Regions from separate parts of the Homo sapiens genome. Here region 1 is linked to region 2. The links come from fine-mapping of genetic effects on gene expression. A gene starts in region 2. The other region holds a variant in brackets. All regions are shown on one strand. Distances are from middle to middle. Region 1 overlaps NUP205 (nucleoporin 205). Region 2 holds the start of NUP205 (nucleoporin 205).

Region 1 (8,345 bases), 25 kb before region 2:
TATAGATCCTATAAAAATAAAAATAATACAAGAATCCTAAGGGCAAATTTATGATAATCAATTTATACTTTTCAGGAGGTATGGTACCAAAACTGCACAATATATTACAAGTGTAGACCTTTCAGGGTGCTTTTAAAAACTGTACATTTGAAATAGGTGGTTTTATAATATAAACACAAAAAAAGACGTTTTTCTCCCTCATTTACTTCCCGCCAACATTTGATGGCTTCTTTGGCACAAAACAGCACACAGAGCATATACTATAAGGAACTGTTTGAAATAGCTCTAAGAATCGCTTTTCAGATGACAGTTACAGCTCAAGCTATCTATTCAAAAGCAGCCTTTGTGTTACGGTTTCTTAAATTCATTATTTTACCTGTATCCATGCTGAAGCCCTTTTATACACTGCAATTCAGAATCTAAACAATCGGGCCAGGCATGGTGGTTCACACCTGCAATCCCAGCATTTTGGGAGGCCGAGGTGGGCAGATCACCTGTTCAAGACCAGCCTGGCCAATATGGTGAAACCCCATTCTAATAAAAATACAAAAAACTACCCAGGTGTGGTGGCGGGCGCCTGTAATCCCAGCTACTTGGGAGACTGTGGCAGGAGAATCACTTACCCAGGAGGCGGAGATTGCAGTGAGCCAAGATCACACCACTGCACTCCAGCCTGGGCGCAATAGAGCAAGACTCCATCTCAAAAAAAAAAAAAATCTAAACAATTATCTATAAAATGCAATTTTTCCACTGTGCCTCTTCCAAATCATGTATAAAAATATTAAATAAAGCAACCTTAGCACTAATCCTTAGGGCAGCATGAGGTTAGTAATTTTCTACCCACAGAAGCATTTTCATTTAATTACTTTCTCATTTATAAACCATTCACTATGTCAAATATTTCTTTCTACTGACTTATCCCCAGTTAAGAGGACTTATTTCCATAGAACAACAGCAAAATATGTCTTCCCTTCAGGTGTACATAGAACATTTACCAAGACAGGCCATATTCTGAGCCATAAAACAAACCTCAACAAATTTAATACAACTGAAATTCTACAAGGTATGTTCTCATATCTTGTAGAGACTCATGACTTATTTCATGAGTCACAAACTGATTCACAAGATGTAATACAGCTACTGGCAAATTTTAGTCTGTATTAAAAATTTTTATTAGTTTCCAAAACATAAAGCTGGTTAATCAGTTTTAAATTATTTTATAAAATTCTTCTACTATTTACTCATCCTACATTATTACACTTACCTTCATTGGCATAAGTGCAAGGAAATCTGTGATGAGATTATGGACTCTGCGAATATAAAATTCTTCCTGATAAAAGTATTCTGATACCACTACAGATTCCATGAGGAACAGGAAAACGTTGTCAGCAATTGCGAGTTCTGCCATTGCTTCATCTGCCTCTGTGAATTCTGCCAGAGCTAGAAACAGATTTTAAAACACAGTACATGGAGGAAAAGTCATTAACCCAGATTGTAATTATATCTCATAATACTCTGCTGATGGTTCAGACATCTTCCCAGCCTTCTAGCATGTGCTATGCACAAAATGAGACTATATATAACTGTAATTGACTCATAAACCCTAAAGAACTCACAAACCCCAAATAACAATATACTCTGAATGTGTATTAGAAAAATACATACTCTTTGAAATAATAACATAACTAATGAAAATTATTTTAGAGATGTGTGATGCAACACTGATGTAGTCAGGGAGCTATCATCCAAACATTCACATATTAAAATGATGTTAAGACTTTAATCCCAATGAAATCTCATGGGTCATCTGAAAAGTCTTCAATCCAAGACCAAAACCTGAACATGAATAGGTAAGTAACTGTGCTAATTTGGTAACCAAGTAGCTAAAATTTAAAAACTAAATTTTAACTTGAATATAAACTTGTCTAACTGTAATTTTTTTATATTTTATTTGGAAAATATCCAATATATATCTAAAAATAAGTATAATAAACCTCTACATACCCATCACCTGTTTCAATACTACCAACTTATGGACAATCTTACCTCATCTATATCTTCCCCCTCTCCACTCATACATATCTCATTAAAGCAAATTCCAATTTAACATTTTACCAGTAAGTATTTGCAGTGTACAACTCAAAAATATACTTAAGAAACAAGGCCGGGCAGGGTGGCTCATGCCTGTAATCCCAGCACTTTGGGAGGATCACCTGAGGTCGGGAGTATGGAGAAACCTCATCTCTACTAAAAATACAAAAAATTAGCCGGGTGTGGTAGCGCATGCCTGTAATCCCAGCTACTGGGGAGGCTGAGGCAGGAGAATCGCTTGAACCCAGAAGGCGGAGGTTGCGGTAAGCCACGATCACGCCATTGCACGCCAGCCTGGAAAACGAGCAAAACTCCGTCTCAAAAAAAAAAAAAAAAGAAAGAAAGAAAGAAAGCAAAAGTAAAAATTCACTACATACTCACACACAACACCATTATCGTATCTTTATTTTATTTTATTTTTTGAGACAGGGTCTCGCTCTGTCACCCAGACTGGAGTGCAGTGGTACAATCTCAGCTCACTGCAACCTCTCCCTCCCAGTTCAAGCAATTCTCAGGCCTCAGCCACCCAAGTAGCTGGGATTATAGGTGTGCGCCAACACACCTGGCTAATTTTTGTATTTTTAGTAGAGACAGGGTTTCAACATGTTGGCCAGGCTGGTCTTGAACTACTGACCTCAAGTGATCCTCCCATCTCGGCCTCCCAAAGTGCTGGGATTACAGGCGTGAGTCACTGCGCCTGGCCATTATCACATCTTTAAAACTAATTCCTCAGCTGGGTGCAGTGGCTTGATCTAGAGTAACTTAATCTGACTTACATTCAACTTTCTATTAAGAGTATGTCATAGGTTATGGTGTATCTTTCCATCAAGAAACATATTGCTGATTACTGCTCTTAAATTTTGAATATAAAATTACTAGGTAATTGTGTGGCAATCTGGCTTTGAAAAAGACTACTACACAGCTTATTCTGTTTGACTGTCATACAAACCAAATACATAGTCTGTTACCGTAAGTACATTTTCATTGCCTTGAAAAGGGCCAGGAACAGATAAAAGCCAAGATAGTCTCAAACAGAGGAAAACATATGATTTGTAGTATTTCATTTTTATTATTTATTTATTATTTATTTCGAGATGGAGTCTCGCTCTGTC[G/A]CCGAGACTGGAGTGCAGTGGCACGATCTCAACTCACTGCAACCTCCGCCTCCCAGGTTCAAGAGATTCTCCTGTCTCCGCCTCCCAAGTAGCTGGGACTATAGGCACGCACCACCACGCCTGGCTAATTTTTTGTATTTTTAGTAGAGATGGGGTCTCACCATGTTGGCCAGGATGGTCTTGATCTCTTGACCTCATGATCCACCCGCCTCGGCCTCCCCAAGTGTTGGGATTACAGGCATGAGTCGCCATGCCTGGCCTGTTTTTTTAATGTTTTGTTTCGTATTTTGAAATAAAGTCTGCATTATCAGCCAGGTGTGGTGGCTCATGCCTGTAATCCCAACACTTAGCCAAGACAGGAGGATTGCTTGAGCCCAGGAGTTCAAGACCAGCCTAGGCAACATAGTGAGACCTCATCTCTACAAAAAAATCAAAGAATTAGCTGTGGTCCCACCTACTTGGGAGGCTGAAGTGGAAGGATCATGTGAGCCCTGGAGGTTGAGGCCACTGAGCCATGGTCACACCACTGCACTCCAGCCTGGGCAACAGGGAAGCCACTATCTCAAACAAACAAAAACGTGCTTATCTACCCATATTATACAAAATCCTTGAGAATAAAATATTGTCTTAATTCTTTGGTATGACTAGTAATAACAATTACTAAAATTACTAATTATTAAATATTTTCAGTAACAGTAACAAATTATTTCAAACCTTTACTTGAATTCAAAAACACCAGAATTAAAAGAGAATCAACTCAAAGATTACGTCTTTTATTTTTTTTGAAACAGAGTCTTACTCTGCTGCCCAGGCTGGAGTGCAGTGGTGCGATCTTGACTCACTGCAACTTCTGCCTCCCAGTTTCAGCCATCCTCCAGCCTCAGCCTCCTGAGAAGGTAGGATGACAAGCATGTGCCACCACACCCAGTTAATTTTTGTATTTTTAGCAGAGTCAAGGTTTCGCCCTGTTGGCCAGGCTGGTCTTGAACTCCTGACATCAAGTGATCTGACTACCTCAGCCTCCCAAAGCACTGACATTACAGGCATGAGCCACTATGCCCAGCCAAAAATTACTTCTTGAAGACCATTTAGGCAATAAGGCATCATTGTCTTAATATAAATTGAGTTTCAATGCCTAAAAACAGTATGCTAAAATTCTGTAAAGCTTAGTGAAATTACAAAAATGCTTGGTTTTTTTGTTGATTTTTTTTTTTTGGAAACAGAGTTTCACTCTGTCACCCAGGCTAAAGTGCAGTGGCATGATCTCAGCTCACTGCAACCTCTGCCCACTAGGTTCAAGCAATTCTCCTGCCTCAGTCTCCCAAGCAGCTGGGATTACAGGCACGCGCCACCATGCTTGGCTAATTTTTTGTGTTTTTAGTGGAGATGGGCTTTTACCACGTTCGCCAGTCTGGTCTTGAACTCCTGACCTCAAGCGATCCACCTGCCTCATCCTCCCAAAGTGCTGGGATTACAGGCGTGAGTCACCACACCCGGCCGATGCTTGTTTTTTTAATTTTTTTTGAGATGTGATCTCACTCTGTCACCCAGGCTGGAGTGCAGTGGAGCAATTTCAGCTCACTACAGCCTCTCTCCTGGGCTCAAGTGATCCTCCTGCCTCAGCCTCCTGCGTAGCTGGGACTACAGCCAAGGGCATGTCACCACACTGGGCTAATTTTTAATTTTTTGAAGAGATGAGGTATCACTACATTGCCCAGGTTTGTCATGAACTCCTGGGCTCAAGCAATCCTCCCACCTTGGCCTCCCAAAATGCTGGGATTATAGGCATGAGGCACTGCACCTGGCTTCATGCCTTTTATAGAATAATATAATAAAAACATTTGATAAAAGTTTCAGAAGTCTATGAAGAGAACAGAAACCAATTTTTCAAATTGGAGATCTTCGTTAAAACTTGTCTGGATTATTTCAAGAAGTGACCATTTCTGCAAAATAACACAAGCTAGTCATTTTTTCTAACAATTTTTAAAATGCAAATTAACAGAAAAATTTTTATAGTTTAAAAATTCTAATTATAATACCCCTAACTATTAAAGCTTATAAAAGGATATGAGCATATAAAATCAAAGAGATTAAGTAGCCAAAGATCTGGGACTTGAAACTAGGGCTGTGATTCCTAACCTATTTTTACTATTATTCTACAGCAAACTATAGCATATTCTATTAAACCTTTCAAAACTAGTGCAGTGGTATGGGCAATTATAGCATAAGATTGTGACCATATTACATAATATTATAATAACTATCTATGTATAACTATATTATATAGTTAATATATTAACTATCACACCTGGGCATGGTGGCTCGCGCCTGTAATCCCAGCACTTTGGGAGGCCAAGGCAGGCAGATTGCCTGAGCTCCGGAGTTCGAGACCAGCCTAGGCAACCCGGTGAAACCCTGTCTCTACTAAAATACAAAAACTTAGCTGGGTGTGGCGGCGTGCGACTATAGTCCCAGGTACTCCGGAGGCTGAGGCAGAATTGCTTGAACCCAGGAGGCAGAGGTTGCAGTGACCTGAGATCATGCCACTGCATTCCAGTCTGGGCAACAGAACGAGACTCCATCTCCAAAATAAAAAAAGAAGATATTAACTATCACATAGCCACTTCAAAGGTTAAAGGGTAACTTTATGTCAGAAAAGTAGTGAAATAAGACTTATAAATGATGAGGGTACGTACAGGTGAGAAACAGAATTTGTACGGGAATGTAAAAGTCTAATTCGCTATCAGCATTTAGATATATAGATGACAGACAGATAGAAATTAACTGGCCAAAGAAAGACTCCTAACACAAAAAAAGCTTTCTGCAAACACCTTGGGAACAGCATGACACTAGTGAAAACAAAATGTTCTGGAATTACACGATTGATAAGATACTAGAATCTGTTGATACTTTAGGATTAGAAAACTGACATAAATTGTAAACTTGAATAAAGCCTTTCTAGATTTACCATAAAAAGACAATTCTTTGGGCTTCGTGTTCCATGTATGGTTCTCATTCTGTTAGAATAAACCCCTACTAATATGACAATTAAATAATGTAAATGTAAATAGCAGAATAATATATGCTACAGTGAGTTAACAGGTTGTTAAAAGTCAGTATTCTGGTCAGGCGCGGTGGCTCACACCTGTAAACCCAACACTCTGGGAGGCCAAAGCAAGTGGATCACCTGAGCTCAGGAGTTCGAGACCAGCCCAGCCAACATGGTGAAACCCTGTTTCTACTAAAAATACAAAAGATTAGCCGGGTGTGGTGGCGTGTGCCTGTAGTCCAATTACTTAAGAAGCTGAGGCAGGAGAATCACTTGAACCCAGTAGGTGGAGGTTGCAGTGAGCCGGGATCGAGCCACTGCACTCCAGCCTGGGCCACAAAAAAGAAAAGTCGGGATTCCACATCTGTTCTTGACTGATCCAAATATCTCCTTTTTAATACACTGTATGGAAAAATAACTGTTTTTAATTTGACACAATGTGAAAAACTAGTTTGTGAACAAATCAAGAAGTAAAATATATAAAAATAAAAGGAATAGTATATTTTAATTTTAAAAAACATTTAAGGCCGGACGGGGTGGCTCACGTGTTGCAATCCCAGCACTTTGGGAGGCCAAGGCAGTCGGATCACCTGAGGTCGGGAGTTCAAGACCAGCCTGACCAACATGGAGAAACCCCATTTCTACTAAAAATACACAATTAGCCAGGTGTGGTGGCGCATGCCTGTAATCCCAGCTACTTGGGAGGCTGAGGCAGGAGAATCGCTTGAACCCGGGGGGCAGAGGTTGCAGTGAGCCGAGACTGTGCCATTGCACTCCAGCCTGGGCAACAAGAGCAAAACTCCATCTCAAAAAAAAAAAAAATTAATGTGACACTGTCATTCCAAATTTTAAACTCATACCCTGAAGGTAAAAGAGCATTGTCAGTGGCTCCAAGAATGGGAAATAGTATTTCATATGATATTTTTGAGAGACAAGGAGAAAAAAGTCTGTATTTCACTACTACACTAAAGGTTTCATTTAATACAACTCTGGATATCTTCCTATGCTTATGCTTATGTATGTCAAAGATAATACTCCTTCCAAAAATGTCATTAAGTGCTAACATGCTGTTTCTCATAACAAAATTACCTACAATCAATTCACCTGTCACATCAGGTAGCTGGGATATTCCCCTCAATGCCAGCGCCCAGGCAAGTCTAACAGTGGCTTGGAGCCCAGGCAGTTTCCAAAGCTGTGAGTCCTGAAGACGAGAGTGAATTGTTGCAATGTACTGTTTTTCTGTCAACAGTGGAAGTTGATGAATCATATCTGAAAACACAAAAATAGACCACTTTACCGATCACCAGATAAATTCTCACTTCTGATACACAGGAATAATATCCAAAAGTCAGAAAATCTGAGCATTCTCACAGAAGAATAATGACCAATTAACATTAATTTCTACATCCCAAAAGGTACACTACTGTTGATTGTACACATACTAAAAACAAAAAAAGAAAATGACAATAATCCTAAATTTCAATTTCACTATTTTCAGTCATTTTTATAAGTGTACTACAAATAAACAAGAAAAAAGTTAGACACTCATTTTTTCTGCACATAAATTCTAAAATAGAAATCATGCTATCTAAAGATCACAAAAATTTTATTTACTTCACAGAAAACACAGATCAAAGATTACATTACTGAAATGACAGTCACTGTCTCAGAATGTTTTAATAAAAAGTTTGAAAATGTAAATGAATGGTAAAGAAACAAGCAATTAAGTAAATTAGGCATGTGCAATCATGAACATGTATAATATATGCTTTAATACTTTCCATTCCAAATCCCCCCAAAAAACAGAAATAATTAACAGGACTGCAGCTGTTTTTTAAATGTGATCTTATATATAAATATTCAAATATGAACGGACTGCAAACACAGGAACAGAGCAGACTATTTTAGTAGCTAAAATATCACCCTTTTTAAATGTTATCCCCACAATTTTAAATCTGATTTTTTTAATGTAGGAAAATGTATAAAACTCAATACCATCTCGTTCCTCTGTGCTTTGCTCTATAAAACTGATATCAAAACAGTATAGAAGCGCCATAAGAAGAGCCAGATTCACTGCATCCAGTGAGCCATTA
Region 2 (8,345 bases):
TGAATGGACGAGGTGACCAGACTATCACAGAAGGACTGCCAAGCAGTGTTAATAGTTGCTTATTCACAAGTCTGTGAGTGTACTCAGCCAGGTTGATACAGGTCACAAGACTAGTTAAGTTATACAGCTGAAATACAAGCATAGGTTTTTTTGTTTGTTTTTTGTTTGTTTGTTTTTAAGACAGAGTCTCGCTCTGTTGCCTAGGCTGGAGTGCAGTGGTATGATCTCGGCTCACTGCAACCTCCTCCTCCTGGGTTCAAGCAATTCTCCTGCCTCAGCCTCCCGAGTAGCTGGGATTACAGACACCTGCCATCATGCCAGGCTAATTTTTGTATTTTTGTAGAGACAGGGTTTCACCATGTTGGCCAGGCTGGTCTCGAACTCCTGACTTCAGGTGATCTGCCCACTTCAGCCTCCCAAAGTGCTGGGATTACAGGCATAAGCCACCACACCTGGCCAACCATAGGTCTTAGAACTCTACAATCTCTGTATTTTTTCCTTACAACTCCAAGATGTTTGATTTTTTAAAACTGTAATTTAAAGGAAGCACATAACATAGAATGCAATCTCAACAAATTTTAAGTGTACAGTTCAGCAGTGTTCAGTGTATTCACATTGTGCAACAGATCTTCACAGCTTTTTTCATCTTGCAAAACAGAAACTCTATGCCCCCTAAACAACTCCCCACTTTCCCCTTTCCCAGCCCCTGGCAACCACCATTCTACTTTCTGTTTCTATGAGTATGACTACTTCAGATACCTCATATAAGTGGAATCATGTAGTATTTGTGTCTTGTGACTGGCTTATTTCACTTAGTATGTCCTCAAGTTTCATCCACGTTGTTTTATGTGACAGGATTTCCTTCCTTTTTAAGGCTGCATAAGGATACTATATATATGCATGTATACGTTATGTTATGTATATGCATGTATATGTATTATGCATATTGCATGTATATGACACATTTCCTTTACCCACTCAACCCAACATTCATTCCTTGATGGAAAAAGAGTTCCTTCCCTAAGACGTTTAGTTTTTTAAAAAACCAGCTCCTGACTCTTGGCTTTTAAAAATGTTTCCTATGTTGCCAATTAAACACTCCTGACACAAGGCTTTATTATACAATGTACACTCTTTGCTGCTGTTGGCAACTCCTTTTCCCTCCAATGATTTGTTTAATAATTATAATAGCTTAGGGCGAGTATGTACTAAAGGAATGTATATAGGCCAGGCACAGTGGCTCACGCCTGTAATCCCAGCACTTTGGGATGCCGAGGTAGGCGGATCACCTGAGGTCAGGAGTTTGAGACCAGTCTGGCCAACATGGTGAAACCCCGTCTCTACTAAAAATACAAAAAAAATTGGCCAGGCGCAGTGGCTCACACCTGTAATCCCAGCACTTTGGGAGGCTGAAGGGAGTGAATCACGGGGTCAGGAGCTCGAGACCAGCCTGGCCAATATGGTGAAACCCCTTCTCTACTACAAATACAAAAAATTAGCTGGGTGTAGTGGCGGGCGCCTGTAATCCCAGCCCCTCGGGAGGCTGAGGCAGGGGAATCGCTTGAACCCAGGAGGCGGACGTTGCAGTGAGCCAAGATCGTGCCACTGCACTCCAGCCCGGGCAACAGAGTGAGACTCCATCTCAAAAAAAAATTAGCCAGGCTAGCCAAGCATGGTGGCGGGCGCCTGTAATCCCAGTTACTTCAGAGGCTGAGGCAGGAGAGTTGCTCCAACCCAGGAGGTGGAGGCTGCAGTGAGCCGAGATCACGCCACTGCACTCCAGCCTGGGTGGACAGGATGAGACTCCATCTCAAAAAAAGAAAAAAAAAAAAAAGGAAAATAAATGTGTATACCTTGCGTACTGGCTCACACCTGTAAACCTACCACTTTGGGAGGCCGAGGCAGAAAGATCGCTTGAGGACAGCAGTTCGAGATCAGCCTAGCCAACATGGAGAAACCCCACCTCTACTAAAAATACAAAAATTAGCCCAGCGTGGTGGCACATGCCTGTAATCCCAGCTACTCAGGAGGCTGAGGCAGGAGAATTGCTTCAACCTGGGAGGCAGAGGTTGCAGCGAGCCAGGATCGCGGATCGCATCACTGCACTCCCGCCTGGGAGACAGAGCAAGACTCCATCTCAAAAAGAAAAATTAAAAAATAAAATAAAATAGAGAAATGTATTATATACAACCACACGTTAAGCATATCTAATTGGGAAGGAAGGACCGCAATATTAAGCATGTAACTTCATTACTAACCTTCTAATATATACGTCTAATATCATAAAATGAATTAGGTTGTGCTTAAGCAGTAGCACTAAGTAGTTTAAGCACCTAAGACTGACTTAGATCATTAGATGTTTAACTCTGGGGACATTACGTAACTATTTGAAGCCTCTATTTCCAAATCTGTAAAACGGAGTATGTAACAGTAACTACTCCAAAGGTGTATAAACGGGAACTGAATGAGATAAGCACGATAATAAGTGCAATGCTGGGATATAGTATGTGTTCAGTAAACATAGCCTTCATTATAATTTATCATAGCTTTTCTGAAATGATTTGATTTACAAAACAGATTTAGACAACTTTTCAAGAATATCAGTCCTGTGGAAAATAGAACCAATACTTTAAAAAAGAGTCCTTTTAAGTGAGATTCTCACAAGCATTTACCACACAGATATACTCTTAATCTTGCCCGCGAACTTCAGAGCATCTCAATCGAGGCATTAACATTCTAGGCACCAAATTATTTTTCCGGACTGCTCTGACCATGAAGGACTTTCTGCATCCTTGCCCCGCCTACTATGCGACAGCAGTGTACCCCAGGAAATATGACAATCAAAATGCACTCACTCATTCAAACACCACTGGAGGGCGGTACGGCCCGAATTGAGAATCACCGAAAGAGGATCCACCCCAAATCTTCCAGAGTTCCTTTACTACCTTCTAGATTCAATTCCACCCCGAAAATCTACAGCTCCAAAGGTACAAGAACATCCAGGGCCTAACCACATCCGCAGGGTTAGAAGACGTCTGCTGAAGCCCCGCCACCCTCTTCCTGACCACCTTTCAGATGGCCGACTTCATAATAGGGAGTATTCGCTGCCTGCAAGATCTCCCACCCTATAAGGAACTCCGACGCCTACTTTCAGCCTCTGCTCATGGCTGGAAAATATCTCGGGTCCTCTGGCTTCACTGTGGAAGACCTGATGCGTATTCCAGCGAAATCGGGACCACAGACGCACAGTGAAACTTGGGGGTGAGGGGGACCAGACTCAGCCCTGGGCTGTGAGAGATTACACACCTGGGTCCAGCGGCCCAAGCCTCACTGCCTGGAATCTCAAACCCCAACTCGAGGGCTGGAGCCGCAGCACCGACGCGCGCCATTCAAACTGGGGAGGGGTGGGACTCTAGGCCCAGAATTAGGGAAAAGCAGGCACCGCACATAAGTGGGGTCCTAGACTCCGAGAAACCTCACGGTCTCGTCTCTCCATGAAGACCTGGTTATCGCTCAGCTCAATCGTCTTTCTGTCTGGCCACACTTACCCGAATTTACCGCCAAAGGCGTCGCCATCTTAGAGGCGCACTAACAGAGCCCTTCTGCCGCATGGAGGCCCCGGGAAAGGGTGAGGCTGACCTGAGCGAAGCCTGAACAAAAAGGCACCACACTGTCCCCTCCACGCTGGGCCGTCCCAGGCGTACAAAAGGCTCCAGAATCTGCTCTGGGTCACAAACATCAATTTTCATTGGGATTATTCCCATTCAAATAAGGCGAGGGCAACCACTTCAGAGACACGAGGTCCTCGATCCGACGTTCATCGTGTAGTGCATCCTGGGACTTGTAGTTTCTAATGATGAGTTGGTTAAGTGGAGAGGAAAAAGTAAAGTGGAATAGAAAAAGATATTCTGAGAGTAGTTATTAAAATGACGCCCATTTATGACATTATAAAAGCCGTAAATTCAAATCATTATCTCCGCTTCAAGTTAAATCTTCCTTACAGTGGGGAGTGAAGTAAGGTATGAAGTGTCTACACCTCAAAAAGCCACTGACCGGTTACAAACTAAGTTTCCGTGACATTTCAGTTTACCAAATATATTCTGTCAACATAGTTGCGTAGAGCGAAACAAATCATAATTTTTAATTATAAAATTTTCAAACGGATACAAAATTAGAATAGCAAACACTCAGCATCAATAACGTGGCCAATTTCCCACCACGGCAGCCCCAACCCACCCTTACCACCCCAACACCCTCCCCTCCCCACCCCCCGCCCCCGATTAGTTTGAAACAGATTCCAGACATATCGTTTCATAATCACCAAGTATTTTTCTACCTGAGCACCCAAAGTAGCTGAACTCTTTCTTCAGCTGTTAAATTTTAGTTTGCTGATTTTCAAACTAAAATGTAAATAATCATTGCTATTTACAGCTATGTATTAAGAAAAATTTTATAGCCATTATCTCATTTAATCCCTGCAAACCATTCTATTGGGAAAATGATATGATTATAACTATTTATGTCAGAGACGCTCCATGTGCCTTACAATCTCATTGTATTAACTCTCCATCATTCCCATTTCACTGTTGGAAATCAGAATCAAATAATTTAGACAAAAGCATAGAGTATGTTAAGAATATCCAGAACTGGCAGGGCGCAGTGGCTTATGCCTGTAATCCCAGCACTTTGGGAGGCCAAGGCAGGCGATCACTTAAGGTCAAGTGTTTGAGACCAGCCTGGCCAGGAAGGTGAAACCCCGTCTCTACTAAAAATACAAAAATTAGCCAGGCATGGCGGCACGCACCTGTAACCCCAGCTGTTCGGAAGGCTGAGGCAGGAGAATCCCTTGAACCCGGGAGGTGGAGGTTGCAGTGAGCTGAGATCATACCACTGCACTCCAGCCTAGGCAACAGAGTGAGTGAGACTCCATTTAAAAAAAAAAAGAATATCCAGAACAGAACATTTATTCTTTTGAACAAATAATATCAAGTGACACAATGTACATTAGGTTTGAAACACAAAAATCACTGGTGATTTTTTCTAAAAGTCATTGATATATAGAGACAAATGCCAAACTACGATTAAAGTGGTTTTAAGGAGTGAAGTGGGGAAGAGAGAAAGTAAACGCAAAGGAATTTTTCAAGAAGTTTATCATGAAACTGAGAAGAATACTGAGCAGGAACTTGACAGGAAGCGGCATTCAAAGATTTCTCTCTCAGCACAGCTATTACAAGCCTTTCCCTCTCCACATGCACTTTTTAAGCCCACACGCTTCCCTCTCAGTAGATAACTTTGCTTTCTATAAAGTAACTCTTTAAATTCCAGCAACTCCTCTTCACCTGTCATTACACTTTACAAGCATTCTCTCACAGGCTTCTTCAATTCGTAGCAATTGGGATATTGCCATCATAAGCCCCTCTAAAACTGCGCTTGGTATGTTTACCAGTTATCAGTCATCAAATTCCATGGGCACTTTTCTGAATTATGATAGTTATAGGCCGGGTGCAGTGGCGCACGCCGGTAATCCTAGCACTATGGGACGCTGAGGTGGGAGAATCACCTGAGGTCAAGAGTTCGAGACCAGCCTGGCCAACATGGTGAAACCTTGTCTCTACTAAAAATACAAAATTAGCTGGGCGTGGTGACAGGACTCCTGTAATCCCAGCTACTTGGGAGACTAAGGCAGGAGAATCGCTTGAACCCCAGAGGCAGAGGTTGCAGTGAGCCGAGATCGCACCATTGCACTCCAGCCTGGGTAACAGAGTAAAAACTCTGCCTCAAAAAAAAAAAAAGAAAAAGAAAAGAAAAAGAAAGAAACAAAATTATATTATCCTGTGGCTACTGGGGCACCAATGATACTGGTTTTCCTCCTCTTTCCAGTTCTTTTTTAGTGTTTTACGTGGACTTCTCTTCCTCTTCTACCCACTAAATCTAGCTCTTCCCCTATAGTCATCTCTAGTTTCTGTCCTTTTCATTCTACATGCTTTCTGTGGGACATCTTATGGTTTCTTACTACCACCTGCTTGCTGATGAATTCTGTGTTTGTATCTCTAGTCCAGTCCTCTCTCTTGAGCTTCATATTTGTAGAACCAACTCTCTACTTCATATCTGTATTGATTGCCACACAGGCGTTTCAAAACCAACATGTCTGAAACGTAAATGATCACTTTTCCCCTAAAACTCTGCCACCTGTATCCCCACCCAGTTGCCAAAATCGGAAACCTGGGATTCTTTCTGTATTCTTCCTTCAATTGTCAAATCCTGTTCATTCTACCTCACAAATATTTCTGGAACCCTTTTCCTCTTCTCTGCTTTCTATGCCATTGTTCAAGTCTCATCTTCTTAAACTTGGTATTTTGCAATAGCCTTCTCATTTGTCTTTCTTATTTCCATCTGATCTTCCTTTCATGGACTCCTAAGGTGATTTTTATTTTTTATTTTATTTTATTAATTTATTTCAAGACACAGTTTCACTCTGTCGCTGGAGTGCAGTGGTGCAATCTTGGCTCACTGCAGCCTCCACCTCCCGGGTTCAAGCGATTCTTGTGCCTCAGCCTCCTGAGTAGCTGGGATTACAGGGGCATTTCACCACACCCGGCTAATTTTTGTATTTTTAGTACATGGCGGGGGGCGGGGGTTTGCCATGTTAGCCAGGCTGGTCTCGAACTCTTAACCTCGGCTTCCCAAAACACTGAAATTACAGGCATGAGTCACTGTGCCCAGCCTGAAAGTGATTTTTAAATACAAAAAAACATGACCGGACACGGTGGCTCACGCCTGTAATCCTAGCACTTTGGGAGGCCAAGACAGGCAGATCACCTGAGGTCAGGAGTTCGAGACCAGCCTGACCAACATGGAGAAACCCCGTCTCTACTAAAAATACAAAATTAGCTGGGCGTGGTGGCACATGCCTATAATGCCAGCTACTCAGGAGGCTGAGGCAGGAGAATTGCTTGAACCCGGGAGGCAGAGGTTGCGGTGAGCCAAGATCACGCCATTGCACTCCACCCTGGGCAAGAAGAGTGAAACTCTGTCTCAAAAAAAAGGAAAAAAAAATATGGCCAGGCGCAGTGCCTCACACCTGTAATCCCAGCACTTTGGGAGGCCGAGGCGGGCAGATCACGAGGTCAGGAGATTGAGACCATCCTGGCTAACACGGTGAAACCCCATCTCTACTAAAAATACAAAAAATTAGCCAGGTATGGTAGAGGGCACCTGTAGTCCCAGCTACTCAGGAGGCTGAGGCAGGAGAATGGTGTCAACCAGGGAGGCGGAGATAGCAGTGAGCCGAGACCGCACCACTGCACTCCAGCCTGGGTGACAGAGTGAGATTCTGTCTCAAAAAAAAAAAAAAAAAAAAAAAAAAAAACACATGATGTGGTTGTTCTGATCAAAATTTCTCAATGATCTTCTATTACTAAGAGTTATTACTAAGAGTATCATTTAAAATCTTCTTAGCAAGGCACTCATGACACTTCCTGATATGGTTCAGCCTCGTTCTTCAGCCTTCCACACTCTTCCTCAAGAGCCCTTTACTCTAATCATTCTGAACTATTTGTTATCCCCAAATACAACATGCTTTCTTTTGCCATGTATCAATGTCTTTGCACCTGCTATTCTGTCCTCCTGGACTGCCCTTCCTTCCCTTCCTTATTCACCTGTGACCACCCACCAAGTTAACCTCCAAACATGATCTGCTCTCCAAGTCTCAGGGCCTGTGTTAATGCTGCCTTCATGATGCTGTCCTTGATCCCCTGCCCCATCAAATTCGGGTGTTTCTTTGCCTGCAGACCTATTGCACTTTTTCCCATCTTTATTACGTCCCAATGTGCTATGACAATTGTCTCCTCACTAAAACTGTTAGCTTCTTGTGGTAGATTGTTATTAAAAGGCCCTCAGTGAATCACAGGTCCCTGAATTGAAGCCATTGTGTAATCATCTGCCACATTGAATCTGGGTTGGCCTTCTGACTTGCTTGGACCAGGAGAATGCAGAGGAAGTGATGTTGGGCACTTCCAAGCCCAGGATTTAAGAGACCTTGTTACTTCCTTTTTGCTCTTTTGCCCATGTAAGGAAACTCGAGCTTGTCTTTTTGAGGACGAAAGACCATGAGGAGAGAGGCCTAGCCAACCCTTAGCCATTCCAGACCCTAGCTGAAATGTTGAACATTAGTGAGGCTATTTTGGATCCTCAGTACTAGTTGATCCACCAACTGACTGTAAATGTGTGAGTCCAGACCAGATTGTAGAATTGTGAGCAAGTAAATGGCTATTGTTTTAAGTCACCGTTTTGTGATTTGTTATGCCCAAGAAATAACTGATATACTCCTAGAAAGCAACAGCTGT

Evidence for each region. PIP is the estimated chance that this variant, and not a neighbour inherited with it, causes the effect.
Region 1: its variant is fine-mapped to the expression of NUP205 in whole blood (TOPMed, PIP above 0.99). The same link has a PIP of 0.9 or more in blood mononuclear cells.

What each region holds. Positions count from the first base shown.
Region 1 is chr7:135,577,927-135,586,271 of GRCh38, reverse strand. NUP205 (nucleoporin 205) reads right to left here. Exons shown (of 43, transcript NM_015135.3): 6 at 8,248-8,345; 7 at 7,357-7,521; 8 at 1,265-1,440. Among named protein-coding and RNA genes, the nearest start is that of NUP205, 24 kb to the right of the region's middle. The variant G/A (reference allele first, on the strand shown) is at 3,204.
Region 2 is chr7:135,553,176-135,561,520 of GRCh38, reverse strand. It overlaps NUP205 (nucleoporin 205), which reads right to left and starts at 3,604. Exons shown (of 43, transcript NM_015135.3): 1 at 3,549-3,604. The coding sequence starts at 3,576. RefSeq lists enhancers at 2,894-3,013, 3,084-3,143, 3,204-3,253, 3,634-3,763.